2 separate regions of the Homo sapiens genome follow, and region 2 is linked to region 1. Evidence: fine-mapped expression QTL. Tissue or cell type: whole blood. Region 1 holds a variant in brackets; the other region holds the start of a gene. All regions are shown on one strand. Distances are from middle to middle.

Region 1 (4,852 bases):
TGCCCGGCTAATTTTTGTGTTTTTAGTAGAGACAGGGTTTTGCCATGTTGGCCAGGTTGTTCTCAAACTCCTGGCCTCAAGTGATCCTCCCACCTTGGCCTCCCAAAGTGCAGGGATTACAGGCGTGAGCCACTGCGCCTGGCCAAGGTCTGCATTTTTTAAAGTTCCAAGGTGGACCGTACACACTAGAGTTGAGAACCGGTGCCTCATCACTTTGCACATGTGGTTCCCTTCGCCTGGAATGCCCTTCCTCCCTCTTCCTCTACCTCCCTGAGCTTCAGGCTCTGCTCAGACATCTTCTGCGTGATGTCCTGTTCCAATCTGGGTGCCCTCGAGGGCCCGGTGCTGCTTCTTCCCTGGCCCACTTTACACCCCATTCCTTTTTTTTTTTTTTTTTTTTTTTGAGACGGAGTCTCACTCTGTCGCCCAGGCTGGAGTGCAATGGCGTGATCTCAGCTCACTACAACCTCCACCTCTCAGGTTCAAGCAATTCTCCTGCCTCAGCCTCCCTAGTAGCTGGGATTACAGGGGACTGCCACCACGCCCAGCTAATTTTTTGAATTTTTAGTAGAAACGGGGTTTCACTATGTTGGCCAGGCTGGTCTCGAACTCCTGACCTCAGGCAATCCACCCGCCTCAGCCTCCCACAGTGCTAGGATTACAGGCGTGAGCCACCGTGCCCGGCTTTACACCCCATTCACACTGGTGGTTTACCTTTCCAACTCATTTGGTATTTTCTGTGTGCCGGCACTGCTGCGTGTATTAACTTATTTAGTCCTCACAACATCCAATGATGTAGGTCGGTCCTAGTTGGGGAAATGGAGGCACGGAGAGGTAAATAACATCGCCCAGCTAAGAAGTGGTTGACCCACAGAGGTTGCACCAAGGTACTGTGAGGCCCAGGGTGGCTGTTCTTTAAGGGCAGGGACCTCGTGGGATTCATTGTTGCAGGTTGTCAGTGCAAGCATGGGGCCTGGCATCTAGGAGGTACTCGGTTTCCTCATCTGTAGGATGGGCTGAAGGATGGGAATTCTCTCTCAGGGTTTCTCTGTAGCTTGGGGACTTGAAAGGGGTTATGAGCTCTAAGGTGCTTGGTGTGGATGGGAAGTGGTGGCAGAGGCTCCTCTCTGGGTTTTTGGTTTTTTTGTTTGTTTGTTTGTTTTTTAACAGGATTTTGCTCTGTCACCCAAGCTGGAATGCAGTGGCACAATCATAGCTCACTGCAGCCTCGAACTCCCAGGCTTAAGCGATCCTCCTGCCTCAGCCTCCCAAGTAGCTGGGACTACAGGTGCATGTCACCATGCCTGGCTAATTTTTTTTTCTTAATTTTTAGTAGAGATGGGGGGGTCTCACCATGTAGCCCAGGCTGGTCTTGAACTCCTGGACTAAGTGATCCTTCCACCTCAGCCTCCCAAAGTGTTGGGATTACAGGCGTGAACCACTGCGCCCAACCCTCTCTGGGATTTTAGGGTGGAATAGTTTCCCAGACAGGAGGCCTTTTCCCTCCTCCACCATGCTGTGGTTCACCCTGTCCCACAGAAATCAGCCCCTTTGAGCCTGGCCTGGGGCTGGGTACCCTGATGGAGATTCTCGGATGATGGCAGAGCAGAGTGGAGACTTGGAGAGGCCACTGCTGCACCAGGAGCTCCCACTCCCGATCCGACATTAAGGGGCTCACCTGTTCCCAGGGCAAGGAAGACCTCCCTTCAGCACCCCTGCCATTCCTACCTCCCACCCACCATCCCTCAGGAGCCGTGGGTTGTTGTCAATGATGTTGTAAATTAGCTGCTTAATTAACTATTTAGGCTAATCAGATTAATTGACATTAATTGGTTACCATTTGTCAAGGACCTTGAAAAGCTGTGCTCCTCAGAGTTGAAGTGTGTGACTGGTGCCGGGCAGGGGAGTCGGGGAGGAGCTGTCACCATGCTAACAGCTGGGAGTGTGCAGGTGGCAGGCAGTGGCAGTTCCAAGGCCACCAGGACCGCTGCTCAGGGACTGTGCACCTCCTGGCACCTCTCAGGGAGCCCCAACTTCTGAGTTCTGGCCCCTCACACCTTGGGAAACACATCAACTCTTCCTCTCCCTTAGTTGTTTAAGGAAAGGTTTGGCAGGGACCAGTGGGAAGACTGAGAAACTTTCCTTTTTGTAAAAAGAAAAAAAAAATAGAGATGGGGTCTTGTTATGTTGCCCAGGCTGGTCTAGAACTCTTGATCTTAAGTGATCCTCTTACCTCAGCCTCTCAAAGTTCTGGGATTACAGACATGAGCCACTGTGCCCAGCTGGGAGACTTTCCTTCCTCCATCCCCAAGGGCTGTAAAGACCTCAGAGGGAGAGAGATCTTAAAATTCTAAATAAGTCATGAAATAAGTAGGTCACCACATAACAACTGCTAGGATGACGTGCATATATTCACTCAAAAAAAAAAAAAAAAACAGGAAAGATGAGCAGTATAGGGTAGATAAAATATGCAAAATATTAAACTGTGATAAAAT[G/A]ATCAGATTTGCATTATTTAGTCAATTACAGCCCCCAAAACCCACAGTACATTTTTATGCCTGTTTTAAAGCACAACTAACAGTTTTAAATTATAGCACTTGAAACAACAACAAAAAAAACTACTATGAAATGCATCCTACGTTTTGGGAAGAGAGAAAAAAAAAGCCAACCCACTGAAAAATGGGAGTGTGCATTTGTCTTTAGAGACATTCTCTGAAGATTAAATGGCTCCCATATTTAGTCCAATACTGGGCTGGGAGTTAGGAGCCCGCAGTTTTTTTTTTTTTTTTTTTTTTTTTTAGACAGGGTCTGGCTCTGTTGCCCAGAATGGAGTGCAGTAGTGTAATCATAGCTTACTACAGCCTCAACCTTCTAGGCCCAAATGATCCTCCCACCTCAGCCTCCCGAGTAGCTGGGACTACAGGCGTGCACTACTACACTGGCTAATTTTTTTATTATTATTATTTTGTGTAGAGTCAGGGTCTTGCTATGTTGCCCAGTCTGGTTTTTTTTTTTTTTTTTTTGAGACAGAGTTTCACTCTTGTCGCCCAGGCTGGAGTGCAATGGCATGATCTCAGCTCACTGCAACCTCTGCCTCCCAGGTTCAAATGTTCTCCTGTCTCAGCCTCCTGAGTGGCTGGAACAACAGGCATGTGCCACCACACCTGGCTAATTTTTTTTTTTTTTTTTTTTTTGAGACAGAGTCTCACTCTGTCGCCCAGGCTGGAGTGCAGTGGTGCGATCTTGGCTCACTGCAAGCTCCGCCTCCCGGGTTCATGCCAGTCTCCTGCCTCAGCCTCCCCAGTAGCTGGGACTACAGGTGCCCACCACCACGCCCAGCTAATTTTTTTTTTTTTTTTGTATTTTTAGTAGAGACGGGGTTTCACCGTGTTAGTCAGGATGGTCTCGATCTCCTGACCTCGTGATCTGCCCACCTTGGCCTCCCAAAGTGCTGGGATTACAGGCGTGAGCCACCGCGCCCGGCCCACATCTGGCTAATTTTTTGTCATTTTAGTAGAGATGGGGATTCACCATGTTGGCCAGGCTGGTCGTGAACTTCTGACCTCAGGTGATCCCCCAGCCTCGACCTCCCAAAGTGTTGGGATTACAGGCATGAGCCACCATGCCTGCCCCCATGCTGGTCTTGAACTCCTGGGTGCAAGCAGTCTTCCCACCTCGGCCTCCCAAAGTGCTGGGATTACAGGCGTGAGCCACCGTGCCTGCCCCCAGGCTGGTCTTGAACTGGGTTCAAGCAGTCTTCCCACCTTGGCTTCACAAAGTGCTGGGATTACATGCATGAGCCACTGAGCCTGGACAGGGAGCCTGCAGTCTTATCTTGACTTTTCCACTGAGTCCTTGAGGGTCCCTTCCTTCTCTGAGCCTTGATTTCTTCAATGGCGAGTCCCTGGCCTGTCTTCCTGAGAGAATGCTTACATGGAGCAGAGGAGGAATGGATTTCCAGTACACTGGAGGTGCATACAAATGTGAGGAGAGAGAAGAGGTTCATTTTGGTGGGAGGGTCAGGCTCTCAACATGGACAGGGGAATTGCTTTCTGGGGAGGAGAGGTTCCCAGGTTGGTGACAGAGGTTTCTAGCTTGGGAGGGGATGACATGGAGAGTGAATGTGGGGTCTCTCCCTCTCTCCCCTTTTACTGTCCAATTCTGCAGCCCCTCGGGGGAGGAAAGACCGGGAGAGACTGGAGGCTGTTGCCTAGCAACGAGAGGCGCATCTGGATCGATGGGAAAGTCAGTGATGCTCCAGCCCCCAGCCCGACTCTCTCTTTGATCTCAGCCGGCCCAGCAGAAACCTGAGGGGATGCCCCCCAGGCAGCCAGCTTGATTGGAGCTGAGTCAATAGAGGGAATGTTCCATAATGAGATTGTATGGGCAGTGGAGGCAGCTGCCTGTGGCTTCTCCTGTCACCCTCCTCAGCAGGTGGAAGGGGCCGGACTGTCTGTCCAGCACACACCCTTCCTGCTGATAGCTCTGGCCTGGGTAGGGGTAGGGTAGGGGTACACATCACCATCCAATTTTGATTCTTGTTAGTCTTGCACTTCCAGGGACTCAGAGCCCAGCTCCCCCTGTTAGGTTTTGAAGGGAAGGCGAGGATTATAGAAAGACACACACACAGAAAGAGCACGGCTCAAAAGCAAATGCAGCTTTTGTTTTGTTTTGTTTTTTGAGATGAAGTTTTGCTCTTGTCCCCCAGGCTGGAGTGCAATGGTGTAATCTCTGCCCACTGCAACCTCCTTCCCCCAAGTTCAAGCGATTCTCCTGCCTCAACTTCCCGAGTAGCTGGAATTACAGGCGTCTGCCACCACACCCGGCTAAGTTTTGTATTTTTAGTAGAGACTGA
Region 2 (4,852 bases), 220 kb before region 1:
CAAGAGGAGGCAGCACCCGGCTTCAGGAGTGGCTGTGAACTGAGCTGGGGGTGGCGGTGGGGGCCCTCACCCATTCTTCTTAGGCAAATAGGCCTCCATGTCAAAGAAGAGGCCTTGGCGCTCTTTCATCTGGTTCTCCAGCTCCTGTGCGGCCCCCTCGGCCTCTGCTGGGAGGGAGGGTTTGCATCTGCGGGTAAGGCCAGAAACAGTCAGGGCAAGAGGACTCCCAAGTGTCCTCCCTGACTCCCACAGGGGCAGAAGGGCAAACAGGGCCCAGAGAGGGGAGGGGCGGTGCCCAGGGTCTCACAGCGCCAGCCCTCCCACCCCACACTCTGCCCATGGCGGGTGGGGTAGGGGATCCTAACTTCTTCAGGGCGAGGGCCAGCTCCTGGAGCCGCTTCTTCTGCCGCGTGATGGAGCTGGTGCAATTGTTCTGAAGTTTGGTCAGCTCCTCCAGCTTCAGGCGGTAGAGCCGATGGGTCTCCTGGGGGCCGGAGGGGAGAGGCTCAGGCCAGTTGGGGAGCTACTGAGCCAGAGCCTGCAGGCAGGACGTGGCGCTCAGGCTCCCCCAGGGCTGCTGGGAGGGTTTCGCTCAGCGGGAAAGGAGGTAGAACTGTGCCTGCCCAGGGATGAGGTGGCTGTCTCCCCAAGGCAGGCAAGGACCTGGGTGTCCTCCTGTGAGCCCAGAGACCCCCACAGCACCCCTCCTCCAAAAACAGACTAGGTGTTTTTGTTTTTGTTTTTGTTTTGAGACAGTCTTGTTCTGTTGCCCAGGCTGAAGTGCAATGGCAGGATCTCAGCTCACTCCAACCTCCGCCTCCCGGGTTCAAACCATTCTTCTGCCTCAGCCTCCCAAGTAGCTAGGATTACAGGCACCTGCCATCATGCCTGGCTAATTTTTGTATTTTTGTAGAGACAGGGTTTCACCATGTTGGCCAGGCTGGTCTTGAACTCCTGACCTCAGGTGATCTGCCTGCCTCGGCCTCCCAAAGTGCTGGGATTACAGGCATAAGCCACCGCACCCAGCCAAGGTTTTCTTAGTCTCAGCCCATCTGCTAGTTGTCCCCACCCTACAAGGACAGACTCTTTCTCCTACCTTGAGTCTGGAGCTTAGGCCCCCAGGGCCACCTCCTGGACCAAGCAGGCAGCCCAGAGCCACCCCTCTATCCTCTCAGCTCCTCCTGCCTATCTAGCCTTCCAGTACAGGAGGAGCTCAGGTTCTCAGGAATCCCTGACATCTTCTTCCCAGGTTAAAGGTCATCAGGTTTCAACCCTAGAGCCTCCTGCTCTAAGGCCAGCCCCACTCCCTTCCCCTAGCACCTTTGGCCCAAGGATTCCCCAAGCACTTTGCCCTGGTAGGTGAGTCTCAAGAAGGCGCAGCCTAGAGATGGGGCAAGGGGCAGTGTGAGGAGAGCCAAGCAGGGGCTGTGGCCAGGACAGCGGCGGCCAGGCGGGGAGACTGGGTCTGCTCAGTCTCTGGGGAGAAGCACCAATGGCAGGGGCCTTGGCAGGGCCAGGGGCAGCTGGGTTTCAATGCCCACAGGAAGCAGTTGGAACCAGTCCAGGAGAGGCCAAGGGCTAACCAAGCCATCAGCTGGCCAGGGCTCTACTCTGTCTGGATCTTGTTTCTCATGCCCAGGAGGGGTCACCACGCCCCCTCGGACCCCAGCACGTGCCACTTCTGCCCACCCACAGCCACCGCCCTCTTCCCTGCCTGGATGAGGCCAACAGCCTCCTCCTCCCTGGCCTCTGGACAGAACAGCCACGGTGGCCCTGGGGAGCTCAGTCCAGACAATTCCTCCCGTAGCTTTCCACTGGCCTCGGAGGGACTCTGATCTCTGCCAGGCCAGAGCGTCCCTGCAGGGCCTAGCCCCGCCCACCCCTCCCACCCGTCCCACCCCTCCCCTGGTTCTCCTTGATGCAGCCACATGGGCCTGTCAAGTCCCCTCTTTCCTTCCAAAGGCCTCGGCGGCGCGCGGTATCCCTCTGCCTGGGGCGTCCCCCATCCAGGCCGAGGACACCCCCCTAAACGCTGCTCCCCCGACCTGGGCTGCCTCTCGGGCGCTGCCCGCTGCGCGTTTGCTGAGTGGCTGACCCAAGGCTGGGCCCGCCCGTGTGTGACTCAGGCGGCCGCTCTCTTCTGGGAAGGGACGGGGTCGGGGTCTGGGCCCCTTTCCAAGGCCCTCATTGGAAGCCGAGGTCGCCCAGCGCGATGGGGTCCCGCCGGGGTTCCCGGACACTGGAGGTGGTGGCAGTGGACACCAGGACCAGGGGCCTCGCCCCCCTTGGCAGTGACGCCAGGGCCCCGACCCCTGACCCTTAGCTCCCCACTGCCTGACCCAGGGCTGCCCGACCCTTGACCCTGAGCCAGCGAGACGCGGCTCGGGGGCGACCCGGCGTCCGCAGCGGCGCTAACCTGGATGTTCTGGAAGTCCTGCTGTAGATCCTCCCAGTCCCGCAGGCAGTCGCCCAGCGGGCCCGGGGGCGGGGGCTGCATGGCTGCAGCGCCAGTAGCCAGTAGTGGAGGACGGCGCAGCAACCCCGGCCCACCCGAGGCTCCTCCGCCACCGCCCCCGTCCGCTTCCGGGCTCGCGCCGCCACGGGCACCAATGGGGAAAGGCCACGCCCCCCACCCCAGCCAATCCGGGACAGGGGCGGGGTATGGGCGGGGCCGTATGCAAGGGCGGTTGCTAGCCCCGGGACTCGCGGCCTGGACCGGGACTGGGACGGCTGCAGCCCCCGGGCCTGGACTGCACTGACTGTGCCAGCCGCGTGGTGCAGCCAGCAGGGCTCTGGCCCGTCATGCTGAGAGCAAACCAAGGTGCAGGGAGGTGACACCTGCTTGCAACATTTTCGTCCTTGGGAAGCTGAGCCTCTTTGGGGAAGGGAGTTAGAGCTGCTTCTCTCGCTTGGATTTTTACAGCGGCCTCCTTTCTCCCTGCCTCACCTCCACTGTCCCTTCTCGCGGCCACCGGACTGCCCTTCCCAAAACACAAGGCTGATTCCCCATCATGTTCATGCTTAAAACTTTCCAGCGGCTGTGTCCTGCCTACCAGGAGGTCCCTAATCGGAGCTCTGCAGCCATCCCGGGCTCTGTCCCAACTCACACCCTGAGGAAAGCCAGGGCTGTGTGTAAAGCCGTTCCCCCTCTGGCAAAACCCCACTCCTCCTTGAAGGCCTGCCCTTCTGTTGAGGGGAATCCCCCACCCCCTCCCACCCCCATCCCTCCACAGAGCGCGCTAAGTGGTGGGACGGCATTCATCTCTCTGTTCCCAGCCCCACCCACGCGGTGGCAGGGAATGGTTGCCGAATGGACTTGGGGAAGGTCCTGCATGGATGGACATCCTAATCCCCTACCAGTCCCCTAGTCTGTGCCGTCTCCTGATGCCCAGTTTGTTCTGTGGGTGCTGCCAGCTTTGGAGAAGTGCATTTGGAAAACAACTTCCAACTGGGTGCCGTGGCCCACACCTGTAATCCCAGCATTTTGGGGAGGCCGAGGCTGGAGGATCACTTGAGCCCAGAAGTTCGAGACCAGCCTAGGCAACAGAGCAAGACCCTGTTTCTACAAAAATAAAAATAAATTAGCCAGGTGTGATGGTGCATGCCTGCATTCCCAGCTACTCACTCAGGAGGTTGAGGTGGGAGGATCGCTTGAGCCCAGGGAAGTTGAGGCTGCAGTGAGCCATGATTGCGCCACTGCACTCCAGCCTGAGAGACACAGCAAGACCGTGCCTCCAAAAAAAAGGAAAGGGGGTAAAAAAAAGGAAAACTTTTAAGACCTTAGGAATTTCTAGAAACGTGGATAGGGAGATGGGGGAGGGGGTGAGAATCTCTCCTTGGTGAACACAGCCAGGCAGAAATGAGTGGGGAGCAGGGAAAGAAAATCTGTTTCAAGGGGTGGATGGCAGGAAGCGCTGGGGATGAGGCAAGGGTGTGATCCCATTCTAGGAGCCTGGGGGCTAGACAAGGCTGGGCTTGGTATCTCTGGGACTAGGGGACTGCCTATTGGTGGCTATTGTGACATCCTCTGTGAACCAACACAGGCAACCTCTGGGTACCCCCAGGCAGCCTCCAAAGGGTCTAAGTCACCAGGGGGATGCAGGGCAGCTGCTCTAGCAGCCAGATGCTCTTCCAGAGGCAGCCTCAGGGGTGCAGTTGGGATGGCCCGCGACACCTCAGGGATGCGGGTTCTTGGTGAACCTGAGCAGGGCGCATCAGCTAGGTGGCGTGAACAGGCACTTGGGAAGAATCAGTACAGGAGGCTAACATGAGACTTTCAGGCAGCAAAGGCCTTCTCCTTCCAGACAAGCCTGGGTATACACACTCTGGCCCTCCACCCACAAAATGCCCCCAGGTGAGGCTCTTCAGTACCCTTCGGTGGGCCTCGGAGAAGATCAGTAGAGCGGATCCATGATGTTTGTGATGGAATCTCCAAGGATAGTCTTCTCCCATTCCAGCAGCTGGCTCACCAATCCCCGATTTGGACACATGTTGTTTTTGCACTTCTTGACATAGGCCCAGGACCTCTATGAATACAAAGAGAGAAAGTGAACTTCACGATTGGTCCTGGGCCCTTTCCACTTGGATCAGAGGCAGCTTTCAGAGACAGGAGGCACTTGCACAGTGCCAGCAACACGGCTTAAGGGCTGGATGCAGAAACAGGGCAGCCTGGCATGAATGCATCAGTGCTGGGAGTCATGGGAGCTGACTCTGCCTTGGGCAAGCCCCTCTGCTTCTAAATCTGGTGACAGAAATAATTCCTATTTCAAACAGCTTCTGGGAAGATTAAGACAATATACATGAAACCACCTGTGGATGGCAAACACTATGCCAAGCCTAGTGCAGTCTCAAC

What was found. PIP is the estimated chance that this variant, and not a neighbour inherited with it, causes the effect.
Region 2: it holds the start of TMEM120A, and the variant in region 1 is fine-mapped to the expression of TMEM120A in whole blood (TOPMed, PIP 0.98).

The regions. Positions count from the first base shown.
Region 1 is chr7:76,212,625-76,217,476 of GRCh38, forward strand. All of the region lies in intron 1 of SRRM3 (serine/arginine repetitive matrix 3), which reads left to right. Among named protein-coding and RNA genes, the nearest start is that of SRRM3, 13 kb to the left of the region's middle. The variant G/A (reference allele first, on the strand shown) is at 2,496.
Region 2 is chr7:75,992,074-75,996,925 of GRCh38, forward strand. TMEM120A (transmembrane protein 120A) reads right to left here and starts at 2,522. Exons shown (of 12, transcript NM_031925.3): 1 at 2,417-2,522; 2 at 366-484; 3 at 71-187. The coding sequence starts at 2,497. STYXL1 (serine/threonine/tyrosine interacting like 1) reads right to left here. Exons shown (of 9, transcript NM_001317785.2): 9 at 4,269-4,526. The coding sequence ends at 4,395. RefSeq lists an enhancer at 3-62 and silencers at 2,244-2,303, 2,314-2,763.